Homo sapiens: one gene and its partners. The protein of the gene in region 2 interacts with the protein of the main gene of each other region in a biochemical or structural test. Each region holds a gene or a part of one and is shown on either strand. Other genes may lie near its edges.

Region 1 (4,069 bases), on a different chromosome or scaffold from region 2:
TATATATGTGTGTATATATCTATACATTTACACATACACAGACACACACACACACATATTTTTAAGTATTAGGATTTATATTTGGCCCTGTGGTCCAGCAATGAATTACATCTCTAGCAATTTATCCTAAAAAAACTAATCAGAAAAGTTACAAGGATGTTCAGCATAGCATTATTTAAAACAGCAAAACCCCCCAAAAACTTATTGTCCAACAGTAGGGATACACTGGGAGATAGACAGGAATTTGAAAACATAAAGGGTACCCTGTTTGGGCAGCTTCACTCTGGCTTCTTGACCTCCACATGTACATAATGAGCCTCCTCTTGACTTGGGGGACCTCATTAGTACCTCAAACCCGTAAGTCCCACTGCATTCTTCTGCCCTTAATAATACAACCAGGCTTAGCCCGCGAGGTCTGTAGTCTCTGTAACTGCTCAAACTCCCAATATCTACATAATCAGTAGAATAAAATCCACACACTCTGGAGTCCCACCAAATGGATTTCAGGGCCTCTCTTCACTGGCATAACTAGTGTTTAGTTTATTTTTAAGGAAGAGAAAAGGGAGGAGTGGGTACTTTCCCATTCAAATCATCCTCACCATCCCATCCCACACCCTGTGTCAACTGGCCCAACATTATACCTGGGAACTTGTCCACACCAACCCCAGCTGTGGAGGGGCTCAAAGGTAATTTTGGGAGCTGGGATGTGAGCATTCCTTCCCTCTGCACTGCGGATTCAGTGTGTCCAACCTGCCCATCCCTTTCAGCCACATGAAGTGCTCATTTCATCAAACCAGAGTCCCACAGCCACACACTTTGGGATTCGCTCAGTAGGGTCTGGATGGGGCCTGCAAATGAGATTTTTAACAATTGGGGTTTGGGGGGCCCAGGTAATTCAGCTGATCAGGTGAGTTTGAGAAGGAAAAATTGACTGAGACCGACTACCTGGAAAGCAGCCACCAGCGATCAGATCAGCGGCCAGGCCTGGCAATGTCAGCAGGCAAATAAATGCCCCCACGGTGGGCGGGCTGGTTGGGCCAGGGATCCTGGCCTCCTGAATCCACATCACACCAGGTAAATAATCTATTTATTCCTATCCTCTCTGTCATCTTGCCAGATGAAAAGCCTACCCTCTGCCTTCTGGGGCTGTGCTGATGCTGTCCCCCACCCTCTGCTGTCCCTGGGAAGTGGCCCTGAGCAATGTGTTCTTCCCGCACTCGCCCTGCTGCACTCTGTCTTCCCTCACCCACCTCACCTCAGCCAGCCCAACACACCTTGGGCCTTGTTTGGAGTGACTTCTTTTTTTTTTTTTTTTTTTTGAGATGGAGTTTCGCTCTTGTCGCCCAGGCTGGAGTACAGTGGCACGATCTCAGCTTACTGCAACCTCCAACTCCCGGGTTCAAGCAATTCTCCTGCCTCAGCCTCCTGAGTAGCTGGGATTACAGATGTGTGCCATCACACCCTACTAATTTTTGTATTATTAGTAGAGACAGGGTTTCACCACGTTGGCCAGGCTGGTCTCGAACTCCTGACCTCAAGTGGTCCACTCGCCTCGGCCTCCCAAAGTGCTGGGATTACAGGCATGAGCCACCGTGCCCAGCCTGGAATGACTTCTTTAGAACCCATTCCTGGCCTTGGAGAGGTAAGAAACTTTCAAAACCTTCTGGCTGAGAATCCTGAAGGGTCCTTTGGGGCCTGGCTGCAAAAAACCCTCAGAAGGACCTTCTCTGGAATGTTCTCTTAAAGGGACATTTTCAGACCTTAATCACAGGTCTGCCCACCCCACAGGTCCCCCAGCTCAGCCTTCCCTTCTTTTTGAGTGTGACTAAGTCCTATCCAGCTCCATGCACTCTCTGAAAAAGCACAGACCCTGGATGGGCAGAAATGACCCACGTCACTGAGTGGCCCACAGCGGGCAATCAACAATGAGCAGAGTCAGCCCAGCCGGGTTTATTTCAGGACGGACACAAAGCCTACCAGCTGCCCGGGCTGAAACTCTGTGATCCCAGGCTAAGCACAGCCAACCCTGCACGGGGTCAATGATTCTGTGGGGTGGAAAGGCCAGAGGGATTAACACCTGCTCAGGCCCCAGGCTTGCCTCCTTCTTCCCCTGCACCCCGCGGTCTTGCCCATTACCATGGCCAGGGGATGACAGGAGATCTCCAGGGTCCCATCCTCTTCTTTTAGAAATGGGAGTGAAGTCCCCAAAGGGGGAAAGTGACGTGCCTAGGTTCCAGTGGAAGATCCTGAAGAAGCCATTCACATACACATTTATTCACCTGGGGAACAGGTATCCGAGCATTTATTACGTGCCAGGAGATAACAACAGTACACGAAAGGAAAATCTAGCTGGGCCTCCTCTCCTGAGGGCCTGGGTGGCAGCGCATGTGACAGCTGACTGTCCCTCCCCCACTGACCTCCCCCAAGCTGCCTCTGCTTCACTCCTCCCATCCCACGGCTCTGAGCCACTCCGGGAATAGAGGGAACTGGTTTGGGCTGCCTGATGCAGGGCTGTCTATAATTACCCGCTCAGCTTTGCTCTCTCCCCCTCCAAGGCGGAGGAAGGAGTCTCAGGTCTCCCAAACACAGCCACCAACCTCAGGGACTGCCATATGGAAGGCTGGGCACTGCCAGGAATACACAGATGCCTGATGGGACCTGGGCCAGGGGGTTGTGCAGGGCAGAGTCTTAGCCCCCTCCTTCCTTCCTCCATCCACCAGGCACTTCCTGGCTGCCAGAAATACACCATGCCCTGAGACCCACCACCTGCAGCTCCCGAAGGACCTCACGAGGCAGGGTGGACAAAGTCAGGCCCCCATTTCGGGTCCTGGACTCACTCTATCTCTCTTGCCTCTGTGGAAGCCACAGCCACAGGCCTACGGTTTCCTCCTCAGACTTAAGGCCCACTGCCCCAAGTCTCCAGTCAGCACCCTCAGTGGGGAAGGTGTCCTAGGGCCCGTCACATGCCTGTGTCTTCCCTGTAAGCCCACCTCCTGCACGGCTCTCGAGACCATGTGCCTTAATCACGGCTGGCGCATGGCGTTCCCTGCCTCCCAGGCACTCCCCTGGAAGGAGCCCACAGCTCCTCACGAGAGCCCTTTGGGTGCTGCCCTTGCTTTACAGGCGAGGAAGCTGGGGCTCAGAGAGGGCGGAGGGCTTGTCCAAGCTTACCCTGCCAGGAAGCAGCAGGGCTTGGAAAGAGGACTGGGGCCCTGGGGATCCAGTCCTGCCCTTGCCTCTCACTCAGTGATCAGGAAGGCTTCCTTCCCCATGCCCAAGGCTCCTTGGGAAAATAAGGAGGGAGGACAAGGTCCCTGCCTGCCCCCACCCCTCCTCTAGATTAAAGAAGCCAGGGAGCCTGTACTGCCTAGGCTTCCCTCATCTCACGAGCAGAGGCTGCTCTCTGCTGGGGCTGCGTGGAGCATCCTCTAGGCAAAGGAGTATGAATTAAGCCAGCCCCCTACCGAGCCTGCCAGTAACAAGCCAACAGGCAGAAGGAACGTCAGAAAAAGTTAAGGCTGCCTGTGGTGCAGGGTCCACCCTGGCACAGGGAGCCGGGGGCCACCAGCCCTGCTAGTCCACTGACTGCACTGGAGCTGGGAGCTGCCAGAGGCTCAGCATCCTGAAGGCACCGCCACCAGTATCACCTGGAAGCGGGAAACCACCAGCTGCCTCCCGCCACTCTGCAGTGGGCCTTGCCTGACCAAGCAGAGTATGAGTTCCTGCAGGGCGGGGCCTGAGCCCAGCTCTGCTTTCCCATCTCTCCACAAGCCCCAGTTAACAACGGTGAAAGAATAAAGTGTCACAGGCTAACTGCCCAGCTCTGAAATCGCCACAGGACCCTCTTGTGACATGCCTGTCTGGGCAAAGACAAGGGGTAGAAAGAGAATGACTTTGGGGTGGCGAGACCTGGGCTGAAGTCCGTTTCAGGTACTTTGCTAAGTGTTCGACCTGGGGCTAGTTATCCCTGAGGCTTTTTTTTTTTAAATAAGAGATGGGGTCTCCCTGTGTTGCCTACACTGGTCTCGAACTCCTGGGCTCAAGCAATCCTCCTGCCTCTGCTCCCAAA
Region 2 (4,069 bases):
AGCTGAGATCGTGCCACTGCACTCCAGCCTCGGCAACAGAGCGCGACTCCATCTCAAAAAAACAAAAACAAAAACAAAAAACAAACAACTAGGACTCAATTTCTCCTATCGCTGACCTCTCATTTTAAAAAAGCATATCCTGGCTAAAACTTTTAAAAGAGTATGAAGCAAATCAATTTGTTATACATTACAGCTAACATCCACACTAGGAACTACTCTAAACTGAAAATTCTTTTTGTACTTTAAGCTGATATCGGCAGAATCTGAATCTCCAAATGAACCTTCATCCAAAGCAAAGTCAAATCAAAGTCAAATTATATTGAAAGTAACTATCATCAGAGGTGGGAAAAAGATTTCTCTTCATTTGACAGGATCGAATGCTCTAAGTCAGTATTTTAAACAAATTCAACAACAAAAAAACATTATTTACACCAAATGAGAAAATGATAGCCTATGTGGTGATTATGAAAATGAAGTCATCTCAGTGTTTTACTCTGAAAATTAGGTTTACATTCTGTTTTTATATCACTACAATGAAAATTACCTTTTTTAAAAAATGTTTCATTTTTTTGAGACAGAGCTTTGCTCTCTTTGCCCAGGTTGGAGTGCAATGGCACGGTCTCAGCTCACTGCAACCTCCACCTCCTGGGTTCAAGTGATTCTCCTGTCTCAGCTTCCCAAGTAGCTGGGATTACAGGTGCCCACCACCATGCCGGGCTAATTTGTATATTTTTAGTAAACAGGGTTTCACCATGTTAGCGAGGCTGGTCTCGAACTCCTGACCTGAGGCGATCTGCCCACCCTGCCCTCCCAAAGTGCTGGAATTACAGGTGTGAGTCACCGTGTCCATCAACCTGACTTTAAAAAATAGCCACTGTACCATAACAGTAAAGTTCTAGACTAAAGTGAAAATGGATACTAAATATCAAAGGTATAATTTTCCTTTAACCATACCAGTTTCAGAATATGCAATGGTTAAGAGCATAGCTCTGAATTAAGACCGCCTATATGGCCAGGCATGGTGGTTCAAGTTTGTAACCCCAGCACTTTGGGAGGCCAAGGTGGGAGGATCACTTGAACCCAGGAGTTTGACACCAGCCTGGGCAACAAAGTGAGCCCGTCTCTACAAAAAATTAAAAAATTACTTGGACGTGGTGGTGCGTGCCTGTAGTCCTAGCTACTCGGAAGGTGGAGGTGGGGGGATCCCTTGAGTTCAAGGTTGCAGTGACCTATGACGGTACCACTGTACTACTGGCACATCCTGGGTGACAGAGCAAGACCCTTTCTCAAAACAACAAAAAACAAAAAACCACTGCTTATGCCTATGCTTGTCGTGGTCCCGCTACTTCCAAGCAAAGTGATCTTGAGTAAAAGGCTCCACTCCTCTATGCCTTAGTTTCTTTGCCTTAAAAATGAGAATAAGAGAATCTTCATATGGTTGTTGTGAGGATGAAATGAGATGATACGAAGCTAAATTTAGAACAATGGCACATAAAAGCACTCAATTAAAGATAGCTATTATTATCAAACTCAAGACCAAGAAAAATGTACTTAGCAGTAATAAAATCAATTAAGTACATATTGAATGCCAACTATATATGCATTGTTGTTCCAGGCACTGTGACTAAAGACAAATGTATAATGCATGGTCTCCACAAAACTAACAGTGATCTCTCTGCTTGGGGTGACAATATCAAAAAGCTTGAATTAATTAAAGAATATATAATATAAGTGCGTGCTAAACTGTGAGGGAAAATTGCTTGTATTATAAATTCAAAGGAAATACACCAAAATGAGAGCTAACATTTCTTAAGCACTTACTATGTAGCAGGGACTGTAGATGAATTATCTCATTTAATCATCACAACCCTATGAAATAGGTATTATTAACTCCATTTTAACAATAAGGAAACTGAGAAATAGGTAAAGCAATGTGTTTACACAGCTAGTAAGAAGCAGATCTAGGATTCAAATCCTGGCAATATGACTCCTGAGCCTGCCTACCTAACTATTAAACTATTGCAGGGCAAGGGATTCAACAAGTATTAATAATGTCACCACTGGGGCTGGTCGTGGTGGCTCACACCTATAATCCCAGCACTTTGGGAGGCTGCAGTGGGCAAATCGCCTGACGTCAGGAGTTCGAGACCAGCTTGGTCAACATGGTGAAACCCTGTCTCTACTAAAAATACAAAAATTAGCTGGGCGTGGTGGCATGAGCCTGTAATCCCAGCTACTCAGGAGGCTGAGGCATGAGAATTGCTTAACCCCGGGAGGCAGAGGTTGCAGTGAGCTGAGATTGCGCCACTGTACTCCAGCCTGAGTGACAGAGCAAGACTCCATCTCAAAATAATAAAAATAATAATAATGTCACCATTTATTGAACGCCTGCTATGTGCCAGGCAGGCAGTATACCAGACACTTTCAAACATCCCCCCTTTTTTTTTTTGAGACAGGGTCTCACTCTGTCACCCAGACTGGAGTGCAGTGACGTGATCTCGGCTCACTGCTACCTCTGCTTCCCAGGCTCAAGCGATCAGCGATTTGCCCATCTCAGCCTCCCAAGTAGCTGGGACTACAGGTGTGTGCCACCACACCCAGCTAATTTTTGTATTTTTGGTAGAGCCAGGGTTTCGCCAAGTTGCCCAGGCTGGTCTCAAATTTCTGAGCTCAAGAGATCCACTCGCCTCAGCCTCCCCAAGTGCTGGGATTACAGGTGTGAGCCACTGTGCCCAGCCTCAAACATCCCCTTTTAATAATTTCACTCATTTTATAAATGGGGTTACACACGGCAGGGAAAATAACCTGCTCGAGGTTAATACATGGAAGGGGAGGGATTCAGTCACAGATCTGCTGACCCCGGAGAGTCCATGATCTTTCTGACTTCACTTTGTCTTTCAAAAGCAAAGGAAGGCTGGGCGCCTGTAATCCCAGCACTCTGGGAGGGCAAGGCAGGCAGATCACCTGAGGTCAGGAGTTCAAGACCAGCCTGGCCAACATGGTGAAACCCTGTCTCTACTAAAAATACAAAAATTAGTCGGGCATGTGGTGCACGCCTGTAATCCCAGCTACTGGGGAGGCTGAGGCAGGAGAATTGCTTGAATCTGGGAGGCGGAAGTTGCAATGAGCCTGATCGCCCCACTGCACTCCAGCCTGGGAAACAGAGCAAGACTCCGTCTCAAAAAAAAAAAAAAAAAACAAGCAAAGAAAAACTTAATTGCTATCAGCAGGACTTATGCACAACTGAGAGGATTTGTATAATTTAGATAGCCAATGAGGTAGGGAGAGAAAAGATACTAAAAAAAGGAGGAACCAAAGGGCGGACGCAGTGACTCATGCTTGTAATCCCAGCACTTTGGGAGGCCAAGGCGGGCGGATCACCTGAGGTCAGGAGTTCAAGACTAGCCTGACCAACATGGAGAAACCCTGTGTCTACTAAAAATACAAAATTAGCCGGGCGTGGTGGTACACGCCTGTAATCCCAGCTACTCGGGAGGCTGAGGCTGGAGGATCGCTTGAACCTGGGAGGCAGAGGTTGTGGTGAGCCGAGATCGCACCACTGCATTGCAGCCTGGGCTGTTAACAACAGCGAAACTCTCTTTCTCTAAAAAAAAAAAGGAGGAACCAAATGAGCAAAATATAAACTGAAAGATAGAGTTGAGAAACATAAAGAAAATAGCCTTCCTAGCAAAGAGTAAGGAAGAGTAGAAAATATGGCTAATTTGGGTTAAGATCGCAGGGAGTGAAAGCAAGGTGAAATATTAAGATCTGATTCAGGCCAGGCACGGTGGCTCATGCCTGTAATCCCAGCACTTTCGGAGGCCGAGGCAGGTGGATCATCTGAGGTCAGGAGTTCGAGACCAGCCTGGCTAACATGGTGAAACCCTGTCTCTATAAAAATACAAAAATTAGCTGGGCGTGGTGGCAGGTCCTGTAATCCCAGCAACTCGGGAGGCTGAGGCAGGAGAACTGCTTGAACCCAGGAGGTGGATGTTACAGTGAGCCAAGATTGCGCCATGGCACTCCAGCCTGGGCGACAGAGTGAGACTTGGCTCAAAAAAAAACAAAA
Region 3 (4,069 bases), on a different chromosome or scaffold from region 2:
CCCAAACAGAAAATTTTAATATTAAGCAAATGAAAGACTTATTTGAACAGAAAGCAGCCCAACTTGCTACTGAAATTGCAGGTAAATTGAGTTAGAATTTTTTAGCCAATAAATCAATCTCATTACCTTTTTGCCATTATATACCCTAGCAATAAATATAGTATTTTAGTGTGTTAAAGCATTTGTGATAGACTTCCAATGGTGATTAATGGAATTTAATGATTTCAGAGTTGCTATGTAAATTATTTTGTTTGTCCTCTAGCTGCCTGCCTTCAAAGGACTGGTGTTTCTTTGTAGATTCTTCTTGAAATTTAGAGAAGATACATTTTCTTCTGTGGCATGCTTAAAGATTAAAAAGGAACATTTTAAAGAAGTGAAGTAAATAATGTAGTATAAATGTAACACTTGGTTATACTATTACATATATATGTTTTTAACATGTGCTTTTAGGTAAAATATGTGATTAAGTACATTAAAATGCTAATTATTAACTTAATGTTGAGTGGAATTTATGTAGACAGTTAATTTTAAGTTCATTTCATGTAATTAGAAGTATAAATTTACTGTATATATTTATGGTTATCTAAGGAATGTGAATTTGAATTAGAGTGATATACAGATATGCAGAGTAATATATGGAAACTTATAAAACTGTCCTCCCCTTAAACTAATATTTATATAACTATCTTTAATTAGATATAAAGTCAAAGTATGATGAAGAAAGGAGTCTTCGAGAAGCTGCTGAACAAAAAGTGACACGTCTGACAGAAGAATTAAACAAAGAGGCAACTGTAATTCAAGATCTGAAGACGGAACTGGTAATTTAGGAATTATTTATTGAGATGTACTCTTATACCTTTCTAAATTAAAAATAAAATACATACCCTGAAGGAAAATGTTTAAAAATATAATTTGAGTGAAATCAGGAAATAAGCAATTCCCTATATTCTACCACCTGCATATATATTCTGTATATGATTTTTAAAATAAAAATGGAATGTTATGATACGTAACTTACTACCTTAACATTTTTGTTGTTTCTATCTAAATATCATCTGTCATTTTAGTAGTTTTCATATCTGCATCTCTGATCCTGGTCTTCTCTTGCATGTTTGTTTTATAAATCCATCTGCTTTTAGGGTACTTTGTGTTGAATTTCTAGCTTTAATTTCAAATTCAACAAGTATAAAATCAAAGTAATCATGTTTCCTCATTACTGTATTTCTGTTATTGGAACCATACATCTCTAATACTCTCCCAAGACTTAATAATCTTGGATCTGTCCTTGACTTTCTTTCCTTTATTTAGCTCTCAATAAATATATAAATTAACTACATCCAACCTGGAGCAAACTCTATGCTTTCATTTGCTCCTTCATTTTTATTACCAGTTTTGTAGGATAGAAAAAGAAGGAATGTAGCATTTTCAAGTCACTGTTATGACCAATAGATGTAGTTTGTGAAGGGAAGGAAAACAAATAAAGTAGTAAAGATAATTGTGAATTTACTATACAGCACCTTGAGTATTAATACTATTAAATATGAGGTAGGATGGGAAGAGGAAGTGGCTTATTGTGGGAGAAGATATCAGTGTTCAATGTTTGAAGTCTAAAAATTGATATTGATGATTGTTTCCCTTTTGATTCCTTTGTAGTGAAATGATTCTAAAAATGTGTATTATTTTAGTTTTTCACTTTAATTTTTAATTAAAATGTGTTGTTTCACAGCTTCAGAGACCTGGTATAGAAGATGTTGCCGTGCTAAAGAAAGAACTGGTCCAAGTTCAAACACTAATGGATAACATGACCTTGGAACGTGAGCGAGAATCTGAAAAACTCAAAGATGAATGCAAAAAATTGCAGTCACAATATGCTAGCTCAGAGGTAATGAAGTTCATTGTACTTAAATGTGATTCATATTAGCTTGTGTAGTGTATACTATTGAGTGAAGCCAGGATTTGAGATTTTTCTGAGTGGCCTATCAAAATATTTGTCTTTCTTTCATTTTTGATCTGAATAATATTTGTTTATAGTCAATGTGGTCTCTCAGTATGTTTTGCTTTATAAAGCTAGACACTCAGGAATATTTGCATAAAGATTATTATTCTGTTTAATATATATATTGTTGACATGATATTTAAGGTTAAATTTACTCAAGGTTGGTTGATAAATGGTAATTGACTTTAAAGGAAGAATGATAGCATTTTCTACAATTATATTACCAATTTTGTTTAGAAAATATATTTAAGAAAGGCTTATTTTGTAATAAGCTTATTTCTTTTTTTTTTTTTTTTTTTTTTTTTTTGAGACAAAGTCTTGCTCTGTCACCCAGGCTGGAGTGCAGTGGCGTGATCTCAGCTCACTGCAACATCCACCTCCCGGGTTCAAGTGATTCTTCTGCCTCAGCCTCCCAAGTAGCTGGGATTACAGGTGCCTGCCACCACGCTTGGCTAATTTTTGTATTTTTAGTAGAGATGGGGCTTCACCATGTTGGCCAGGCTGGTCTCGAACTCCTGACCTCAGACGGTCTGCCTGTCTTGGCTTCCCAAAGTGTTGGGATTACAGGCGTGAGCCACTGCACCCGGCCATAAGCTTATTTCTAATTGATGGACTTTGAATTATGAATTTGAAAGAAGTCTTGAACTAGTCTAAATTCAGTCCAGAACTTCCCTTTATGCCAACCCTGCTAAGTGATCCACAATCCTTGCTAGGTGGTGTACGGTGTGCATATTTCTTCCTAAGTCTATTTTATTGAGCTGACATTTGTTTCCCTGTAATTTACATGCGCTGGTTCTGGTTCTGTCCTTAGGAATTACACAGAATAAATTGTTCCTCTTTCCACATGAGGTATTTGAAGACTGCTCATATTTATTCGGAGTATTTCTCTTCCAAGATAAACATTTTCAGTTCTTCTACTATTTCTTACATGACATGACTTTGGCCTGTAAATCCCTTGTATAATATGTCAGCATTTAATAAACTCTAAGATGTATAATACATAAATGTGCTTAAAAATCCTAGCCTTTGTCCTTTTTACTTTATTATAGGAGACATTTTGTTATGACTACTGTTATTTGTAGTCTTTAAGCTCCCTTATGTAAAGTAGACCTCTGATTTTCATATTTTCAGTTTAAAAAGTTGTTACCGTAACATTTTAATTTGAATCTCTTCCTTAGAGTTTTGTAACTGGTGATCTAAAAGCCACTCTATTCACAAATATAACATGTCATCAAGCTTTGGGGTATAAGTATTATAGATAACCCATGTCTAATTCATTTTTAAAAATCTTTCTTTATCTTATGGGAAGAGATGGTGAAAGTTTGTGGATATAACACACATAGGCATGTAAGGCCTTATGATGCCTAACACTACACTCTCTAACTTATGATATTTGGATGCAGTTTTTCCAAAATTGACACTTTGTAGCCCAATAACACTTAATTCCAAAAATTTTCAAACAATTTCAGGTGGTTCATGAACTTACTGAAGCCAGTTAAAAGCTCTTGTCCTACTGGTATTATTAATCAGCAGAAGACAATGATAAATCTATAAGTACAAATGTGAAATCAAGGAGAGGCTGAATCAAAGAAGTCTCATGAGGAAAAGTGCTATTCAGATGTTAATGTCAAAATACCTAAACCAGGGTGAACCCAGTCATTTATTTCTTTGTATCAGTAAGAACTATTTTTGTTTAGATATGTCTGCCTATTGGTATTTCTCAAATTAAAAAAAAATACACTCCCTTTTGATTAAAAAATATCTTAAATGCTATTTGAAATTTTAAAATAAATGTATTATGGTGACTAAAACAGAACCAAATTAATGTCAGTTTTAGGAATATGTATTTTAAAGTTGAGTCCTCTCTGACTTATTCCAGCTGCAAGTTTTGGAGTTATGCATATACTTTTTAAACAAATAGAACATTAACAAGGAAAATAAATTTACATGTTTACTTGCATTTAAAAAAAATACAGGCTGAGTATGGTGGCTCACCTCTATAATCCCAGGACTTTGGCAGCTGAGGCAGGCAGATTGCTTCAGTCCAGGAGTTTAACCAGCCTGGGCAACATG
Region 4 (4,069 bases), on a different chromosome or scaffold from region 2:
TTAAGCAATCCTTTTGCTTTGGCCTCCTAATGTGCTGAGATTGTAAGCATGAGCCATCATGCCTGGCCAAAATCACGAGAGATATTTCATAATTATTATGAAAAGTTATAATAGTTTTATTGAGCACTGTGTGCCAGGCACTGCTCTAAATACTGTGCTTGAATTAGCTCAATCCATGTAACAACACTTAAAGTAAGCATTATTCTCATTTAATGAGGAAACTGAAGCACAGAAAAGTTAACAGTAATCAGGATTTGAAACCATTATGCCTTCAGATATTGGGCACATAACTACTATACTATGTTGTCTTTTGTATAAGCAAGAATGCCACTCTTTTCTGTTGGGGGTATCCTTTCCAGGGACGTGAGTGCTTATATTCTCTCTTTTTTTTTTTTTTTTTTTGAGACGGAGTCTCGCTCTGTCGCCTAGGCTGGAGTGCAGTGGCGCGATCTTGGCTGACTGCAAGCTCTGCCTCCCAGGTTCACGCCATTCTCCTGCCTCAGCCTCCTGAGTAGCTGGGACTACAGGCGCCCACTACCACGCCCGGCTAATTTTCTGTTTTTTAGTAGAGACGGTTTCACCTTGTTAGCCAGGATGGTCTCGATCTCCTGACCTCGTGATCCGCCTGCCTCAGCCTCCCAAAGTGCTGGGATTACAGGCATGAGCCACTGCGCCCGGCAGAGTGCTTATATTCGCTGTCTGTAGCTTCTGACTCTTAATATCGGAATATTTGAAAAACTAACCAGAAAGCATCAAAGTGGCTGGGTGTGGTGTCTCACGCCTTCTGGCATTTTGGGAGTCCAAGACAGAAGGATTGCTTGAGGCCAGGAGTTCAAGACCAGCCTGGGCAACATAGTGAGCCACCCTATATCTACCTAAATAAATAAATAAATAAATAAAGCATCTAAGTGAACTTAATCAGAGCTAAACTATGTGGATGGTTTCGGTGAATATTTCATTCAGGCAGGGTGAATCCTTGCCAATTAATCTCACCCCGTACTTGGTATCTCCCTGGCAGATACCACACTTATGCCTGCCACATTGTCTCTTCCTGGGTAGATTGCCAGCTTCTGGCTCTTGAGCCCCGTTCTTATCTTTCACATAGAACGTCCCCTTTCTGTTCACATAACCATTCTCATTGATAGGGTTAATAAAATTGATTACAATCAAACCTACATCTACCTCCCCAGTATTACTCCTGGGTCACTTAGAGTAGAATTGTGGAAGTTCCTAATTTGACAGGGACTTGAAGACCAGGCGTTGGACATCAAGCAATTAAGTTACCATAGGTGCTTCTGTAAAACTGAAGTTTAATTTTTTTTGTAATTAGAGTCAGGGTCTTGCTATGTTGCCCAGGTTACATTTAAACTCCTGGGCTCAGGTGATCCTCCTGCCTCAGCTTCCTGAGTAGCTGGGACTATAGGCCTGAAAATGTAATTTTGGTTTTCTTTTTGGTTCCTGATTTTTAGTGGGACTTTCCCATTTGTTAATATGATTTCTGTCTTGAATCTTGTGCTTCAGTGTACTTTGAAACCAAGCTGATTTTTGTTTGTTTTGTTTTTTCGTGTTGTTTTTTAAGATGGAGTCTCGCTCTGTCGCTGAGGCTGGAGTGCAGCGGTGCGATCTCGGCTAACTGCAACCTCCGCCTCCCGGGTTCAAGTGATTCTCCTGCCTTAGCCTCCTGAGTAGCTGGGATTACAGGTGCCCGCCACCACGCCTGGCTAATTTTTTTTTTTTTTTTTTTGAGATGGTGTCTCACTCCGTTGCCCAGGCTGGAGTACAGTGGCACAATCTCGACTCACTGCAACCTCTGCCTCCTGGGTTCAAGTGATTTTCCTGCCTCAGCCTCCCAAGTAGCTAGGATTACAGGCACATGCCACCACGCCCAGCTAATTTTTGTATTTTTAGTAGAGACGGGGTTTTGCCGTGTTGGCCAGGCTGGTCTCGAACCCATGACCTCAAGTGATCTGCCCTCCTCAGCCTCCCAAAGTGCTAGGATTACAGGCGTGAGCCACCATACCCGGCCTTTGGTATTTTTTAGTAGAGACGGGGTTTTTCCATGTTGGCCAGTCTGGTCTCAAACTCCTGACCTCAGGTGATCCACCCACCTTGGCCTCCCAAAGTGCTGGGATTACAAATGTGAGCCACTGCGCCTGGCCTGAAACCAAGCTGTTTAGTAGATACGATTCTGTGATGTACTTAGTATATTTGCATTTGAGTTATAGACTTTGTATGGTAAAAAGAAAAGAGTTTTTAAAAAGAGAAAAAAATATGTATGTATATTTGCATAGTTTTGGGGCCTATATATAAAAATGGTTAAAGTTGTTTGTGTAGAAGGAGATAGAAAGGAAAGCCCAGAGAGGAAGTAAAAGGAGGAAGCCATCCTTAACATAAAGGAGACCCTTGCCAGGCAAAGTGGCTCATACATGTAATCCCAGCACTTTGGGAGGCTGAGCCAGGAGCATCACTTGAGGCCAGGAGTTTGAGACCAGCCTGGGCAACATAGTGAGACCCTGCCTCTACAAAAAAAAAAATAATAATATAATAAAAGGGCCAGGTGTAGTGGTGGGCACCTGTAATCCCAGCTACTCGGGAGACTGGGGAAGGAGAATCACTTGAACCCTGGGGCAGAGGTTGCAGTGACCTAAGATTGCACCACTGCACTCCAGCCTGGGCAACAGAGCGAGACTCCGTCTCAAATAAAATAAAGTAAAATAAAATAAAATAAAAAGTGAGACTCTGTCTCAAAAAAAAAGTTGTATATAGCCTATACTTTATATCATCAACTTTAATATTCAAATTTAGCCTTGCAGATGGAACTATTAATATTTAGTAGCTATTACTTTCAGCTACATTTACATAAATGTGACTCATATTCAACATTGTTACTTTCCTTTTGTTTTGCCTACTATTTATTTCCACTTCAGTAAAAATATTAATATAATGGCTAACATTGAACACCGGCCATGTGCAAGGCATTGTACTAAGTACTTTGTGTAGATCATCTCTTTTTAATCTTCACAAAAAAAACAAAACTATAAAATAGAATGTTATCCTTGTTTTACAAATACAGAAACCGAGTTTTAGTGGTGTTAGGTAATTAACTTGGGGTCACACAACAAATACATTGTGAGGCTGGAATTTATATGCTGGAATTCCCACTCACCCACTATGCTATCCTGCTATAAACAGAAGTTTCCTCTTGCTGCGGATGCATTGGTTACCATGGACGTAGACTTCTATCAAGCCAAAGAGAATGCTGAACTTAAAAGTACAGTAATAAACCCTTTGAGTGTAACTCATTGAGGAGCTTTATTGTGATTAATTTTCAGAGAAGGAATAAGGCAGGAAACTAATTTGGTAGAATATTTTAGCTGCAAAATCCTTGTTTACCAGTATAAAAAGAATTATCTTATAAAATCATTCTTTGCAAGACCCTGTGAAATTGATGGTGATTTTTTTTTTCTTTTTTTTTCAGACAGTCTTGCTCTGTTGCCCAGGCTGGAGTGCAGTGAGTCTTGGCTCACTGCAGCCTCTGCCTCCCAGGCTCAAGCCACAGACGTGCACTACTGCACTCGGCTAATTTTTGTGTTTTCTTTTTAGTAGAGCTGGGGTTTCACCGTATTGGGCAGTCTGGTCTTGAACTACTGGCCTCAAGTGATCCGCCCACCTCTGCCTCCCACAGTGCTGGGATTACAGGCATGAGCCACCACGCCTGGCCTGATGGTGATTTAAAGTGCTCTTTCTTCATTACTTCTTGAGTAGCTCACCAGTTTTACAAATGAAGCCACATGGATCTTCCAAGGCCTTATTTAAATTCCAGGGCCTTTTTTCTGTGTATTTCTTTCCAAGAAGCTCATTTACTTTTCCTTTCTTCTTTTCTTCTCTTTTCTTTTACTTCCTTTCTGCTTGCATTTTTTTTTTTTTTTTTTGAGACGGAGTCTTGCTGTTGCCCAGGCTGAAGTACAGTGGCATGATCTCGGCTCACTGCGACCTTTGCCTCTCGGGTTCAATCAACTCTCCTGTCTCAGCCTCCTGAGTAGCTGGGATTATAGGTGTGCATCACCAC

The links.
Region 1: the proteins of STX12 (region 2) and NAPA form a complex in vitro, tested with the Homo sapiens proteins (one study listed by BioGRID).
Region 3: the proteins of STX12 (region 2) and EEA1 form a complex in vitro, tested with the Homo sapiens proteins (one study listed by BioGRID).
Region 4: the proteins of STX12 (region 2) and SNAP23 form a complex in vitro, tested with the Homo sapiens proteins (one study listed by BioGRID).

The regions. Positions count from the first base shown.
Region 1 is NC_000019.10:47,504,696-47,508,764, forward strand, and holds part of NAPA (alpha-soluble NSF attachment protein), read right to left. Parts: intron 1-4,069. UniProt on the Homo sapiens protein: Required for vesicular transport between the endoplasmic reticulum and the Golgi apparatus. Together with GNA12 promotes CDH5 localization to plasma membrane.
Region 2 is NC_000001.11:27,779,339-27,783,407, reverse strand, and holds part of STX12 (syntaxin-12), read right to left. Parts: intron 1-4,069. UniProt on the Homo sapiens protein: SNARE promoting fusion of transport vesicles with target membranes. Together with SNARE STX6, promotes movement of vesicles from endosomes to the cell membrane, and may therefore function in the endocytic recycling pathway.
Region 3 is NC_000012.12:92,848,924-92,852,992, reverse strand, and holds part of EEA1 (early endosome antigen 1), read left to right. Parts: coding exon 1-81; intron 82-696; coding exon 697-818; intron 819-1,726; coding exon 1,727-1,882; intron 1,883-4,069. UniProt on the Homo sapiens protein: Binds phospholipid vesicles containing phosphatidylinositol 3-phosphate and participates in endosomal trafficking.
Region 4 is NC_000015.10:42,501,644-42,505,712, forward strand, and holds part of SNAP23 (synaptosomal-associated protein 23), read left to right. Parts: intron 1-4,069. UniProt on the Homo sapiens protein: Essential component of the high affinity receptor for the general membrane fusion machinery and an important regulator of transport vesicle docking and fusion.